2 separate regions of the Homo sapiens genome follow, and region 1 is reported to be linked to region 2. Evidence: microRNA targets listed by miRTarBase, many of them from high-throughput screens and not tested one by one. Region 2 holds a microRNA gene; the other region holds the end of a gene's coding sequence.
What was found. Region 2 holds the annotated microRNA hsa-miR-941 (CACCCGGCUGUGUGCACAUGUGC, at 2,919-2,941, shown strand). A microRNA usually pairs through its seed, bases 2 to 8, with sites in the 3' UTR of a target mRNA and lowers its output. Matches are read on the target gene's strand: a 7mer-m8 pairs with bases 2 to 8, a 7mer-A1 pairs with bases 2 to 7 and ends in A, and an 8mer does both.

Region 1: miRTarBase lists CEP19 as a target of hsa-miR-941. Seed matches in the 3' UTR shown: 7mer-m8 at 1,599-1,605.

What each region holds. Positions count from the first base shown.
Region 1 is chr3:196,701,432-196,708,927 of GRCh38, reverse strand. It overlaps CEP19 (centrosomal protein 19), which reads left to right. Exons shown (of 3, transcript NM_032898.5): 2 at 201-400; 3 at 1,016-2,651. The coding sequence starts at 271. The coding sequence ends at 1,377. It also overlaps the pseudogene RNU6-646P. Among named protein-coding and RNA genes, the nearest start is that of CEP19, 7.1 kb to the left of the region's middle.
Region 2 is chr20:63,916,577-63,924,792 of GRCh38, forward strand. MIR941-1 (microRNA 941-1) reads left to right here and starts at 2,873; the gene lies at 2,873-2,944. The region is part of intron 1 of DNAJC5 (DnaJ heat shock protein family (Hsp40) member C5); the gene reads left to right. It overlaps LOC124904951, which reads left to right and starts at 1,183. Exons shown (of 1, transcript XM_047440634.1): 1 at 1,183-3,859. The coding sequence starts at 2,824. The coding sequence ends at 3,762. MIR941-2 (microRNA 941-2) reads left to right here and starts at 2,929; the gene lies at 2,929-3,000. It also overlaps MIR941-3, MIR941-4 and MIR941-5. RefSeq lists an enhancer at 3,178-3,880.

The DNA.
Region 1 (7,496 bases), not on the chromosome of region 2:
ATACAGAGAGGATCAGCATGGCCCCTGCGCAAGGATGACACACAAATTCATGAAGCAGTCCGTATTTTAATTTTAAAAAAAATGAGTTTCACAGGCTGAGCGTGTGTGGCCAGAGCCGGACTAGAACCAGATCTTCTGGGGCAAAGGGGCGAGGGGAATGAATGACATTTATCCAACACCTAGTTGTTTTTTCCCTTTAGCAGGAAGTCATTATGCAACTTACACATATTCATCAGATTTCCTCTGACTTACCCGGACATGTACATGGGAATGATGTGCACTGCCAAGAAATGTGGGATTAGGTTTCAGCCTCCAGCTATTATCTTAATCTATGAGAGTGAAATCAAGGGGAAAATTCGCCAGCGCATTATGCCAGTTCGAAACTTTTCAAAGTTTTCAGGTACCTCATGTCTTATCTTGCCTCCTGTCTTAAATATTCTCTAAATACAGGTTCACATCATGACTCTGTCAGGGACTGGATGTGTGACACTGGATGAATTACTTACTCTCAGTGAGCTTCAGTTTCCTAATCTATAAAAGGGAATTGTAGTGTTTTTTTCCAATCTGATAATTAATAATCCTTTTGGGATTGCTGCCTAGGTTAAATGATATAGCATTATTCAATAATATTAATTCCCTTCTCTCATTCCAAATGTTTTTTATTTGTAGTCTTAATATTTTATTAATACCACTACTGCTATCTAAAAGCTATAATATCACTTTTCTTCTCAGACATATTCTCCAGTTGAAAGTGTTTAATATCTCTACAAAGTGATTTTTAAGTTAAAGAAGTCAAAACTGTATCTGTCCTTCTCCCACCACACTGAAAGCTCAATATAAAGGAATGGTTCTACAAAGTAATTCATTCCAATCAAGCCATTTAGCTACTTGACTATAATGGAGATAATATTTTCAGGGTTCAGAGTTTTTGTTCTGTTTTGGCTGTTGCAGTAGTTTATGGCGTATATGATGTACGTGGTACGTATGTGGTATATAGTTTTCTTCTCTCTCCCAGATTGCACCAGAGCTGCTGAACAATTAAAGAATAATCCGCGACACAAGAGTTACCTAGAACAAGTATCCCTGAGGCAGCTAGAGAAGCTATTCAGTTTTTTACGAGGTTACTTGTCGGGGCAGAGTCTGGCAGAAACAATGGAACAAATTCAACGGGAAACAACCATTGATCCTGAGGAAGACCTGAACAAACTAGATGACAAGGAGCTTGCCAAAAGAAAGAGCATCATGGATGAACTTTTTGAGAAAAATCAGAAGAAGAAGGATGATCCAAATTTTGTTTATGACATTGAGGTTGAATTTCCACAGGACGATCAACTGCAGTCCTGTGGCTGGGACACAGAGTCAGCTGATGAGTTCTGATACCAAACACTCAAAACATGCATTGGGCTAGCAGAATATCCATGTTTATTACCAGACTGGTTCTGGAAGAAGCTGTAAAGAATACTAAATATGTTGGGTTATAGGGGATTGACCATGTTACTTTTCAAAACCAGGACATTTAAAGCATCTACTATGTAGGTGCATGAGGAGTATGGGAAAAACAGAATAAAGGAATCTGCCTTTAAGGAGCTTACAATCATGCCGGGTGCGGTGGCTCACGCCTGTAATCCCAGCACTTTGGGAGGCTGAGGCGGGTGGATCACCTAAGGTCAGGAGTTCGAGACCAGCCTAGCCAACATGGTGAAACCTCGCCTCTACTAAAAATACAAAAATTAGCCAGGCGTGGTGGCGGGTGCCTGTAATCCCGGCTACTCAGGAGGCTGAGGCAGGAGATTCGCTTGAACCTGGGAGGCTGAGGTTGCAGTGAGCCGAGATCGCGCCATTGTACTCCAGCCTGGGCGATGAGCAAAACTCCATCTCAAAAAAAAAAAAAAAAAAAAGCTTACAATCTGACTGGAAGATGTCAAAACCTGTGAAAAGCTAATTAGCAGTATTAAGCAACACAAACATTAGTGCCAAATGCATGATAAAGGCTAAAGAAGGCCAGAGCATATATTACTGTAGAGTAGAATAGTAAGGGAAGACTTTGTCCTTTAGTAAAGAGATAGGAGGTGGCCTGGCCCTTGAAATAGTAGTGTTTAGGTAGATGCTTGTGTAGGATTCCTGATAAGAGCAACTGAAAAGAAGGAGAGGGGAAGTAGTAAAGGGACAAGAAACAATTTTTTTTTTGAGGAACCATAAGCAAATTATAGTTTGACAAGACAAGATTGGGGGACATATATGGTTACCAGGGAATTACCTCTTATGTGTTATATCTTTATATTATTTATCTCTGGAAAAGAGTACCCTGCAAAATTCCCTACAGCTGCAAGCAGATGTCACTTGATGGACAGAGGGGGAATTCTGCCCCTCCGGTATCGGGAAATACATACTAAAGACATTGCGAAACGCTGAACCTCTTCCCATAAATAAAAGGTTTGTTTGTAAAATGGGAAATCCACCCATAATAAATGAACAATAGGCACTGCCAGTTTAGGCCTGTTCATGAATGGATCTGCAAGACAGCATCTTCGTTTAACAACATTATCTGTGATTTGATACATTTATCCTTATTACAATATTGTTTAGTTGGTAGAAATTCTATGTTTTCTACAAGGAAATTGATGTTTATTAAATAAAACTGAAAATAATTACTCAGTGTTTCTACCTGTTCACTTCCACTCTCCTTACCATTAAGCACTTCATTAAAAGGGAGCTCATTCTTGTAGTGATATCACCAGAGTTTTGAAATAGTCAGATCTCATACATACAGTAGCCAAAGGGAGCCAAATAATTTTCTGAATTAGAGATCTTTCCATATCTACATAGTATTCCTTTATTCTTTATTGTATAGATATAGGTAGTTTATTTTTTATTTGAGACAGGGTCTCACTCTGTCACCCAGGCTGGAGTGCAGTGGCATGATCACAGCTCACCAAAGCCTCAACCTCCTGGGCTCAAGTGAGCCTCCCCTCTCAGCCTCCCAAGTAGCTGTGAGTACAGGTGCCCACCACCACACCTGGCTAATTTTTGTATTTTTTGTAGAGACAGGGTTTCACCATGTTGCCTAGGCTTGTCTGGAACTCCTGGGCTCAAGTGATCCACCCACCTCAGCCTACCAAAGTGCTAGGATTACAGATGTGAGCCACTGTGCCTGGCTATAGGTAACTTATTTTAAAATTTGTCCTTGGGTTGCTGGGCGCAGTGGCTCATGCCTGTAATCCCAGCACTTTGAGAGGCTGAGGCGGGCAGATCACGTGAGGTTGGGAGTTCAAGACCAGCCTGACCAACATGAAGAAACCCCGTCTCTACTAAAAATACAAAATTAGCCGGGTGTGGTGGTGCATGCCTGTAATCCCAGCTACTCCGGAGGCTGAGGCAGGAGAATCGCTTGAACCCGGGAGGTGGAGGTTGTGGTGAGCCGAGGTCATGCCATTATTGCACTCCAGCCTGGGCAACAAGAGTGAAACTCTGTCTCAAAAAAAAAAAAAAAAATTTATCCTTGGGTTGTTTTCTCCTTTCATGACTACAAACAGTGCTACAACAAATAACCTTGTACATTCTCTGTTTTGCACATATGCAAGGATATCTATTAGATAAATGCCTAAAGGGGAATTACTAAGTATGTGCATTCTAAGTTTTAATAGATACTAAGTTGTCACCAATAGACGTTCATTCATTCATTATTTGTAGTTAATAAGCACTTACTACATTCTAAGCCTGTACTGTTCTGGAGTTTGGGGTTACAGCAGTATATACAGCAAAGTCCTGGGTTTACAGTTGGAGAGCAGAGACATAAATGCATAGAATAGTGTCATCAGATGGTAAGTGCTCAAAATGGGATGAAAAGGAGAATGATAGAGGGGATGGGAGCCACTGTTTTAGATCACATGATGAGCAAAGGCCTGAAGGAGGCAAGGAAAAATTGGTATGCATTTCAGGATTAGCGGGGAAAGGTAAGTGTATTAGCCCTGGGGCTGGAGTGTGCCTTGCATGTTTGAGGAGGAGCAGGAGGCCAATGTGGCTAATACAAATTGTGCAAGAGAAGAAATGGTAGGAGATGAGGTTGGAGTGCATTTTACCAATGCGTAGTACTTACCACGAAGGTTGTACCAACTTAAACTATCAGCAATACATTTGAGTACCCATTTCCCCCATATACTCATCAATGGAGAATGTTATCAAACTTTTTGAGTTTTGCCAATATTCTAATATAAAAATGGTATCTTATAGTTTTGATTTGCATTTCTCTTATTTTGAGGGGGTCTGAGTATCATATATTTAAGAACCATTTTTTTTTTTTTTTTAGACTGAGTCTCGCTCTGTCGCCAGGCCAGAGTGCAGTGGTGCGATCTCAGCTCACTGCAACCTCACTGCAACCTCTCAGCTCACTGCAGCCCTCCTGGGTTCAAGCAATTCTCCCACCTCAGCCTCCTGAGTAGCTGGGACTACAGGCATGCACCACCATGCCAGGCTAATTTTTGTATTTTTAGTAGAGACAGGGCTTCACCATGTTGGCCAGGATGGTCTTGATTTCTTGACCTCATGATCCGCCCACCTCGGCCTCCCAAAGTGCTAGGATTACAGGCGTGAGCCACCGCACACGGCCAAGACCCATTTTTTATGAAATAACTTAAGTCCTTTGTTCATTTTTTTATTGGGTTGCTGGTCTTTTTCTTACAGATTTATAAAAGTTGTTTATCAAGGAAATTAGTCCTTAGTCTATGAAATAAGTTGCAAATATTTCCACCTTGTCATTTAAAAAAATTTGATATTTTTTCCTGGTAGAATTGTTTAATGTGGTAAAATTTATGAATATTTTTCTCTACACATCTGCACCTTTTGTCATACGTAGAAAGGCATTCCCCACAAGATTTTTCTTTTCTTTTTTTTTTTTTTTTGAGATGGAGACTCACTCTGTTGCCCGGGCTGGAGTGTAGTGATGTGATCTTGGCTCACTGCAACCTCTGCCTCCCAGATTCAAGCGATTCTCCTGCCTCAGCCTCTCCAGTAGCTGGGACTGCAGGCGCCCGCCACCACGCCTGGCTAATTTTTGTATTTTTAGTAGAGATGAGGTTTCGCCATGTTGGCCAGGCTGGTCTCAAACTCCTGACCTCAGGTGATCCACCCGCCTTGGCCTCCCAAGGTGCTGGGATTACGGGCATGAGCCACTGCACCCGGCCATGAAATATTTTTTTTTAAAGCAGCTCTATAGAGACAGAAAGCAGATGAGGGCTGCCTGGGGCTGCGGATGGGAATTGATTATGGCTGCCTGGGGCTGGGGATGAGAATTGATTATGGCTGCCTGGGGCTGGGGATGGGAATTGATTATGGCTGCCTGGGGCGGGGGATGGGAATTGATTATGGCTGCCTGGGGCTGCGGATGGGAATTGATTATGGCTGCCTGGGGCTGGGGATGGGAATTGATTATGGCTGCCTGGGGCTGCGGATGGGAATTGATTATGGCTGCCTGGGGCTGGGGATGGGAATTGATTATGGCTGCCTGGGGCTGGGGATGGGAATTGATTATGGCTGCCTGGGGCTGAGGATGGGAATTGATTATGGCTGCCTGGGTCTGGGGATGGGAATTGATTATGGCTGCCTGGGGCTGGGGATGGGAGATGATTTTTTGGAGGTTGATGCAAACACTTTAAAACTGGATTGTGTCTTGTTTTCACAATTCTATAAATTCACTGAATTGATTTGTGCACTTAAAAACAGGTAAATGTTATGGTATATACTGAGCTATATAAATTATGTCTCGATAAAGCTGTTAAAAAATAGAAAACAAATGTCTGCAGACCATTGTTTGAAGACTGAGCAAGGGGGACCAAAAATACATGTAAAAATTCCTTGCGCCCACACAAAGGTGGAGGTTGAAAAAGGCTGGAGAAGGGACAGAATAAATGCATTTATTCAGTAAACACTTTTGAGTATTTACTCTGTGGAAACTCCTCAGGATGTCTGGAAACAGACAGCTTTCAAGGAGAAGGAAGAACAAGACAAAAGACTGATGTAGTTATGGTCAGGTCAGTTTATGATGCCGACAGCAGGTTGAGGTTAACGATTTCTGTGTTCCCCTAAATGGCGCAAGCAGAGCCATGGGATTAGAGCGAGATGGGAAGAAGCATAGGAGAGAGGGAGTAGTTAGGGTGAAAAGAGCAGGTGAGCAGAGGACCTTTTTTCAGATGCAAGGCTAAGGTTGGATATGTTCAACATAGATGGAGAAAGTATATTCTGGGGATGTCAAACAAAAATGGATAATCCAGGAGTTACTTTTTTTTTTTTTTTTTTTTTTGAGATGGAATCTAACTTTGTCGCCCAGGCTGGAGTACAGTGGTGAGATCTTGGCTCACTGCAACCTCCACCTCCCAGGTTCAGTGATTCTCCTGCCTCAGCCTCCCGAGTAGCTGGGATTACAGGCACCCGCCACCATGCCTGGCTAATTTTTGTATTTTTAGTAGAGATGTGGTTTCACCATGTTGGTCAGGCTGGTCTTGAACTCCTGACCTCAAGTGATTCGCCCGCCTCGGCTTCCCAAAGTGCTGGGATTCCAGGCGTGAGCCACCGCACCCAGCTAATTTTTTATTTTTAGTAGAGACGTGGTTTCATGTTCGTCAGGATGGTCTCAAACTCCTGACCTTGTGATCCGCCCACCTCGGCCTCCCAAAGTGCTGGGATTCCAGGCGTGAGCCATTGCACCCGGCCAGGAGTTAGAAATTAAAAAGAATCTCCCCCATCCTCACCATCTCCCCTGAAAAAACAACCGACAAACTAACAAAAGAACTTCCCATGGTCAAATTTACAAGAAGAGACCGTTAATGGTTAAATTAGCGACCTTCAAGCTGAAAAGTGTTTATAAAGTCTTCCTCTCAATGGTCCACCATTTCACACTATAGCAGATACTGCTGATTACCTACTCAACATCCTTAATCTCCTTCTTTATTGCCTGCAGAAGTCCAATTTTGTTGTTCAAGTATAAGCCTCCCACACAAGTCTCAGATCCGGAGGCAAATCCTGACTGATCTAAATAAATCTCTGGGCACGGTGTGCTCATGCCTGTAATCCCAGCACTTTGAGAAGCCGAGGTGAGAGGATTGCTTGAGGCCTGGAGTTCAAGACCAGCCTGGGCAATATAGTGAGAGTGCTCCCTGCCCATCTCTACAGAAATTTTAAAAAATTAGCACACCTGTAGTTCCAACTACTTGGGAGGCTGGGGCAGGAGGATTGCTTGAGCCAGGAGTTCAAGGCCGCAGTGAGCTATGATTATTCCACTGCACTCCAGGCTGGGTGAGAGACAGAATGACGCTGTCTCTAAAAGAAATAAAGAATAGGCCAGGTGCAGTGGCTCATGCCTATAATCCCAGCACTTTGGGAGGCTGAGGTGGGCAGATCACCTGAGGTTGGGAGTTTGAGACCAGCCTGACCAACATGGAGAAACCCCGTCTCTACTAAAAATACAAAATTAGCCAGGCATGGTGGCACATGCCTGTAATCCC
Region 2 (8,216 bases):
ATTGTCTTGATAAACATCTTAAACAACAGAAAACAGGGTTCCAGAGCAGAGAACCAGTCTGACCAAAAATTTACCAGGGTGGGGTTTCCCAATCCTAGTAAGCCTGAGGGTACTGCAGGAGACCAGGGCGTATTTCAGTCCTTATCTCAACCACATAAGACAGGCACTCCCAGAGCAGCCTTCTGTAGACCTCCCCCCAGGAATGCATTCCTTTCCCAGAGTATTAATTCTTGCTAGGAAAAGAATTTAGTGATATCTTCCCTACTTGCACGTCCGCTTATAGGCTCTCTGCAAGAAGAAAAATATGGCTGTATTTTGCCTGACCACACAGGCAGTCAGACCTTATGGTTGTCTTCCCTTGTTCCCTGAAAATCACGATTATTCTGTTCTTTTTCAAGGTGTACTGATTTCATATTGTTCAAACGCACGTTTTACAGTTTGTACAGTTAACACAATTATAGTGGCCCTGAGGTGATGTACATCCTCAGTTTATGAAGATAACAGGATTAAGAGATTAAAGTAAGACAGGCTTAAGAAATTATCAAAGTATTATTTGGAAACTGGTAAATGTCCATGAAATCTTCACAATTTATGTTCCTTTGCCACAGCTCCAGCCGGTCCATCTGTTCAGGGTCCCTGACTTCCCACAACACCTGGCTTCTATTACTTTTTTAAAATTAGCTTTTTTCTTTTTTTCGAGATGGAGTCTCACTCTGTTGCCCAGGCTGGAATACATGGTGTGATCTTGGCTCACTGCAGCCGCCGCCTCCTGGGTTCAAGCGATTCTCTTGCCTCAGCCTCTCGAGTAACTGGGACTGCAGGTGCAATACAAAAAATGCAGAACTTTTGTATTTTCTGTAGAGATGGGGTTTCGCTGTGTTGTCCAGGCTGGTCTCAAACTCCTGAGCTCAAGTGACATGCCCACCTTGGCCTCTCAAAGTTCTGGGATTATAGGCATGAGCCACTGCATCCAGCCTTATTATTATTATTTTTTTTTGAGATGGAGTCTTGCTCTGTCGCCCAGGCTGGAGTGCAGTGGCGCGATCTCGGCTCACTGCAACCTCTGCCTCCCGGATTCAAGCGATTTTCCTGCCTCAGCCTCCTGAGTAGCTGGGACTACAGGCATGCGCCATCACACCGAGGTAATTTTTGTATTTTTTGGCAGAGACAGGGTTTCACCATGTTGACCAGGCTGGTCTTGAACTCCTGACCTCAAGCCATCTGCCCACCTTGGCCTCCCAAAGTTCTGGGATTATTTTTTAAGCAGTTTTGATAGGTGTGTACCTAGTAGTGCTCTGTGGTTTAATTTGCATTTCCCAGGGAGTGGGGGCACTGCCTGTCTTCTCACGCCTCAGTTGCTTGTTGCTGTGACGGTCGCCCACTCCTCCTGCCAGTGTCTGTGCTGCTCACGGTAGCTGCATCAGCTTCACGCTGTCCGCCCTTCGCCACCCACCGCGCCTGCTGCTCAGGAATGTTCCAAGCAACTTGGTGGTAACAGAAGCTGAGAACAGCCCAGATGTCCTTCGGTGCAAGAGTGGATGGATCAGTTGTGGTCTATTCACAGAATAGAATGTGACCACACTGGAGATGAATGAATTGTAGCTACAATCTGCAGTGTAGACGAATCTTAGGAACGTAGGCGTTTCAGAAGCAGATCAAGCCAGGCACGATGCTGTGTGCCTATAGTCCCAGCTACTCAGAGCCTGAAGGTGGGAGATCACTTCAGCCTGGGAGTTTGAGGCCAGCCTGGGCAACATAGCAAGACCCTGTCTCAAAGGAAAAAAAAAGCAGATTACAGAAAAGTAAATCCAGTGCTAGGCCGTATTTTTAAGCTCAAAAAATTAAAACTAATTAGCGTTTAGGGATAAACATGAGGTAATTTTTTAGAAGCAAGAGAATAGCATTGAATTTAAGGTATATATGGGGAAAATGAAACTTCCAAGTTATTGATAATTTTCCAGTTTTTAAATTAGAGACGGGATCATGGTGTTTATGCGTCATAATTTATATGTTCCATATATTTTTTGTTGTTTTTTTGAGACGGAGTCTCGCTCTGTCACCCATGCTGGAGTGCAGTGGCGCGATCTCGGCTCACGGCAAGCTCTACCTCCCAGGTTTACACCATTCTCCGCCTCAGCCTCCCGAGTAGCTGGGACTACAGGCGCCCACCACCATGCCTGGCTAATGTTTTTGTATTTTTGTAGAGACGGGGTTTCACTGTGTTAGCCAGGATGGTCTCGATCTCCTGACCTTGTGACCCGCCCGCCTTGGCCTCCCAAAGTGCTGGGATTACAGGCGTGAGCCACCACGCCCGGCTGATATGTTCCATATATTTCTTTCTGTATTTCACATAATACATAGTAAAATATTTAAAACAGAACAAAAATAGACTTCCTTTTAAGATGTTTTCATATCTGTTCTTACAAAGTTGGCCACAGTTTTTCCCCAACAGTAGTTTGAGTTCAGCAGCAGCTCTTTTATAAAACGTTTGCTGCACACACTGAGATTGCACCTGGAAGTACAGAAATAAGAACACACGTATTTTATTTTATTTTTTTACCCCTGAAGATCTTTAAGTCTTCTGAGGAGCATGGACCTGCTAGACTGCAAGCTGCTGCATTCTGAGGAGCAGGGACCTGCTAAACTGCAAGCTGCCGCAGGCGGAGATTTTTGCCTGTTTGGTTTATTTTGTTACCACTGAGTCCCCAGCTCTGAGAACAGAGCGAGGCATGTGATCGATGCATCGTAACTGTTGAGCAAATGAATGCTGAGCTGTGATGGCACCGACGTGTCCGGGGAGAGGACGCACCCGGCTGTGTGGACATGTGCCCAGGGCCCAGGACAGCGCCACGGAAGAGGACACACCCGGCTGTGTGGACATGTGCCCAGGGCCCGGGACAGCGCCACGGAAGAGGACGCACCCGGCTGTGTGCACATGTGCCCAGGGCCCGGGACAGCGCCACGGAAGAGGACGCACCCGGCTGTGTGCACATGTGCCCAGGGCCCGGGACAGCGCCACGGAAGAGGACGCACCCGGCTGTGTGCACATGTGCCCAGGGCCCGGGACAGCGCCACGGAAGAGGACGCACCCGGCTGTGTGGACATGTGCCCAGGGCCCGGGACAGCGCCACGGAAGAGGACGCACAGGACAGCGCCACGGAAGAGGACGCACCCGGCTGTGTGCACATGTGCCCAGGGCCCGGGACAGCGCCACGGAAGAGGACGCACCCGGCTGTGTGCACATGTGCCCAGGGCCCGGGACAGCGCCATGGAAGAGGACGCACCCGGCTGTGTGCACATGTGCCCAGGGCCCGGGACAGCGCCACGGAAGAGGACGCACCCGGCTGTGTGCACATGTGCCCAGGGCCCGGGACAGCGCCACGGAAGAGGATGCACCCGGCTGTGTGGACATGTGCCCAGGGCCCGGGACAGCGCCACGGAAGAGGACGCACCCGGCTGTGTGGACATGTGCCCAGGGCCCGGGACAGCGCCACGGAAGAGGACGCACCCGGCTGTGTGGACATGTGCCCAGGGCCCGGGACAGCGCCACGGAAGAGGACGCACAGGACAGCGCCACGGAAGAGGACGCACCCGGCTGTGTGGCAGGGGAGGTTCCCAAGAGCAGGCTCAGGGCTCTGGGGTCTGAGTGAGGGCTCTCCAGCCAGCAGGGAGCAGGGCAGGGTGTTGAAGAGACGGCAGGTGCGTCAGGGGCTGACGTGGGACCCGGCACTCTGTGCTCTGTGTCTGCCCGGGAACAGGTAGTCCTGCGTCGGACCGGGAAGTGTGGTGGGTGTGGTGGGGGAAGGGGCTGGCGTCAGCAGGGCTCTCGTCCGCCAACGTCTGGTGGGGATGCCCGCCATGCGGGGGCCTCAGGCTACAGCCAGGGCTGTGAAGGAGCCGAGGTCATAGAGTGGCTGCCCTGGCGTAGGGAGGGAGGACACGGGTCCCCGCCATTTCAGAAGCTCAGCGTCCCTGCACGTGTGCGGTCTTGTCTGCCTAGGCATGTGTGCGGGCCCTGGGGCTGCTGCCAGCAGAACGGACTGGGATACGCTGGATTTGTAAAACGTGACCCTTTTTGTTTGCTTTTAATTTTTAATTTTTATTTATTTATTTATTTTTGAGACTGAGTCTGACTCTGTCACCCAGGCTGGAGTGCAGTGGTGAGATCTCGGCTCACTGCAACCTCCCCCTCGAGGGTTCAAGCGATTCTCCTGCCTCAGCCTCCTGAGTAGCTGGGATTACAGGTGTGTGCCACCACACCCAGTTAATTTTGTATTTTTAGTAGAGACAGGTTTTCTCCATGTTGGTCAGGCTGGTCTCGAACTCCTGGCCACAAGAAGCAATCCACCTGCCTCAGCCTCCCAAAGCCTTGTTTGCTTTTTTTTATTTTGTTTTGTTTTGAGACGGAGTTTCACTATTGTTACGCAGACTGGAGTGCAACGGCACGGTCTCAGCTCGCTGCAAACTCCACCTCCCGGGTTCAAGTGATTCTTCTACCTCAGCCTCCTGAGTAGGTGGGATTACAGGCATGTGCCATCACGCCCGGCTAATTTTGCATTTTTAGTAGAGATGGGGTTTCTCCATGTTGGTCAGGCTGGCCTCAAACTCCTGACCTCAGGTGATCCGCCCTCCTCAGCCTCCCAAAGTTTTGGGATTACAAGCTTGAGCCACCGTGCCCGGCCACCTTGTTTGCTTTTTAAAGATAATGATGTCACTAAAAGAGTTCTGACTGAGGCCGGGCCTGGTGGCTCACACCTGTAATCCCAGCACTTTGGGAGGCCGAGGCTGGTGGATCACGAGGTGTGGTGATCAAGACCATCCTGGCTAACACGGTGAAACCCCGTCTCTACTAAAACTGCAAAAAATTAGCCGGGCGTGGTGGCGGGTGCCTGTAGTCCCAGCTACTCAGGAGGCTGAGGCAGAAGAATGGCGTGAACCCGGGAGGCGGAGCTTGCAGCAAGCCGAGATAGTGCCACTGCACTCCAGCCTGGGAGACAGAGCGAGACTCCGTCTCAAAAAAAAAAAAAAAGAGTTCTGACTGAAGGTTGGAACTTAGCCCTCCAGAAATGAAGACTGCGAATAACGCTGATGGCAGCTCGTCACTTGCAGCAGGTTGCAGCACGTGCTGCTCGTGTAGCTGCGGCTGCACACCAGGCCTCTCCTTTAACTGTGTTATAACCTTTCTGTTGACATGGGATCCCCTTGAAAGTTTTTTTTTTGGAGACAGGGTCTCACTCTGTCACCCAGGCTGACGTCCAGTGGTGCAATTTCAGTTCACTGCAACCTCCTCCTCCCGGGTTCAAGCCATCCTCCTGCCTCAGCCTCCCAACTAGCTGGGATTACAGATGCACACCGTCACACCCAGCTAATTTTTGTATTTGTAGTAGAGATGAGGTTTCACCACGTTGGCCAGGCTGGTCTCAAACTCTTGATCTCAGGTGATTCAACCACCTCAGCCTCCCAAAGTGCTGGAATTACAGGCGTGAGCCACCACTCCCGGCCCCCTTGAAATTTAAACCAAGTTTAGGAAGAATGAAGTTGTGAGGTGCTACTTCAAACATCAGGTGGCAAACTCCCGGACTCATTACCCCAAGGAAATAGGCAGTCCAGGTTGGTGGCTCACGCCTGTAATCCCAGCACTTCGAGAGGCCGAGGCAGGCGGGTCACCTGAGGTCAGGAGTTCAAGACTATCCTGGCCAACATGGTGAAGCCCATCTGTACTAAAAATACAAAAAAATTAGCTGGGTGTGGTGGCGCGCGCCTGTAATCCCAGCCACTTGGCAGGCTGAGGCAGGAGAATCGCTTGAACCTGGGTGGTGGAGGGTGCATGGAGCCAAGATTGCACCATTGCACTCCATCCAGTTTGGGTGACAGAGTGAGACTCTGTCTCAAAAAAAAAAAAAAAATAGACATCAGAAAGGGTTGGCTCCTGTGATCTCGGCACTTTGGTGACCATGACCCAAGGCAGGAGGATCACTTGAGCCAAGGAATTCAAGATCAGCCTGAGCAACATAGACCCCGTCTCTGCAAAAAATTTCTAAAAACTTAGCTGGCATGGTGGCTCACGCCTGTAGTCCCACCTATTCAGGAGGCTGTGTTGGGAGGATCACTTGAGTCTGAGAGGTTGAGGCTGCCATGATCCCTTATCACACCACTGCATTCCAGCCTGGGTGACAGAGCAAGACCCTGTCTCCAAACAAACAAAAAAGCAAAAAATGGTGTTTTACCTAGGTATTTACCATTTCCAGTGGTCTTCATTCCTTTCTAAAAATCTAGGTTTTAGCCGGACATGGTGGCTCATGCCTGTAATCCCCAGCACTTTGGGAGGCTGAGGCGGGTGGCTCACCTGAGGTCAGGAGTTCCAGACCAGCCTAGCCAACATGGCAAAACCCAATCTCTACTAAAAATACAAAAATTAGCCAGGCGTGGTGGTACGTGCCTGTAGTCCCAGCTATTCAGGAGGCTACGGCAGGAGAATCGCTTGAGCCTGGAAGGTGGAGGTTGCAGTGAGCTGAGATTGCACCACTGCACTCCAGCCTGGGCAACAGAGTGAGACTCTGTCTCAAAAAAGAAAAAAAAAAGAATAAGTCACATTTTGGTGAGGAGCAGTGGCTTGCACCTATAATCCTGGCACTTTGGGAGGCTGAGGCAGGAGGATCACTTGAGACCAGCCTGGGCAACAAAGCCAGACCGTGTCTCTATAGAAAATTTTAAAGTTAGCTGGGCATGGTGGCACATTCCTGTAGTCTTAGCTGCTTGGGATGCTGAGAAGGGAGGCTTTCTTGAGTCCAGGATTTCAAGGCTGCAGTGAGCCAAGATCGCACCACTGCACTCCAGCCTGGGCAACAGAGAAAAACCTTGTTTCTAAAAAAAAAAATTAGGCTGGGTAGGGTGGCTCACACCTGTGATCCCAGCACTTTGGGAGGCTGTAGCAGGCGGATTGCTTGAGTCTGGGAGTTTGAGACCAACAAGATCCTGACTCTATAAAAATTTTAAAAAATAGCTGGGCGTGGTATTGCACACCTGTAGTCCCAGCTACTCAGGAGGCTGAGGTGGGGGGATCAGCTGAGCCCAGGAGGTCAAGGTTGCAGTGAGCTGAAATGTGACCACTGCACTCCAGCCCGGGCAATAAAGTCAGGCGGGGAAAAGAAAGAATGAGTTAACATTTTCTCAGCTTTATGTGTTGAGTGATTTTGGATTCTATCCTGAAATGGTAAGAATGAAAAGAAAATCTGCCAAGTCCATCCGTTCCTACACTCTCACTGCCTCCAAGTCATTCTGCGCTCTTGAGCCAGAACGACCTGGCCGTTTTTAAAAATGGAGTTTTTTGCCTTAGTAATTGACTTGTGTAAGAGTTCTTTATTCCACTTGTGAATTGTTTTTTATACGTACATAATGTAAATATTTTCTCCCCTTCTGTGCCTTTCAGTATGAATCTATCTGAACTCGATTCTGCTGTTGTGTGTGTGTCTTTTCCTCAGTACCAGATGGTCTTGATTACTGTAGATATATAGTATATGTCTTGAAATCAATAGGGTAAATTCTCTAACTTTTGTTCTTTTTATTAATGTTGCTGTGGCTAATCTGTCTGCTACATTTCCTTATACATTTAAAAAAATCAGTATCAGTTTCTGCAAAAAAAAATCCTCTTGGATTAGGGTTAGGCTTCTGTCAAGTCTACAGATCAGTTTGGGGAGAACTGACTTCTTTATATCGAGGCTTCTAATCCGTGAACATGAGGAATCTTTTTCTTATCTTTAGTATCTTAGCAATTTGTGGTTTTCAACGTACAGATTTCATAGGTCTTGTTATTTCTTTTTCTTTTTTTGAAACAAGGTCTCACTGTGTCACCCAGGCTACAGTGTGGTGGCACGATCATGGCTCACTGCAGCCTCGAGCTTCTGGGCTCAGCCATCCTCTTATCTCAACCTCCTGTGTCACTAGGACCACAGACATGAGCCACCATGCCTATTTAACTTAAAAACAAAAACAAAAAACCGGGCACGGTGGCTCATGCCTGTAATCGCAGCACTTTGGGAGGCCGAGGGGGGGATTGACTGAGGCCAGGAGTCCGTGACCAGCCTGGACAACATGGCAAAACCCTGTCTCTAAAAATACAAAAATTAGCTGGGTGCAGTGGTGCGTGCCTGTAGTCCCGTGCCTGCGGCATGGGAATGGGTTGAGCCTGGGAGGCGGAGGTTGCAGTGAGTTGATGA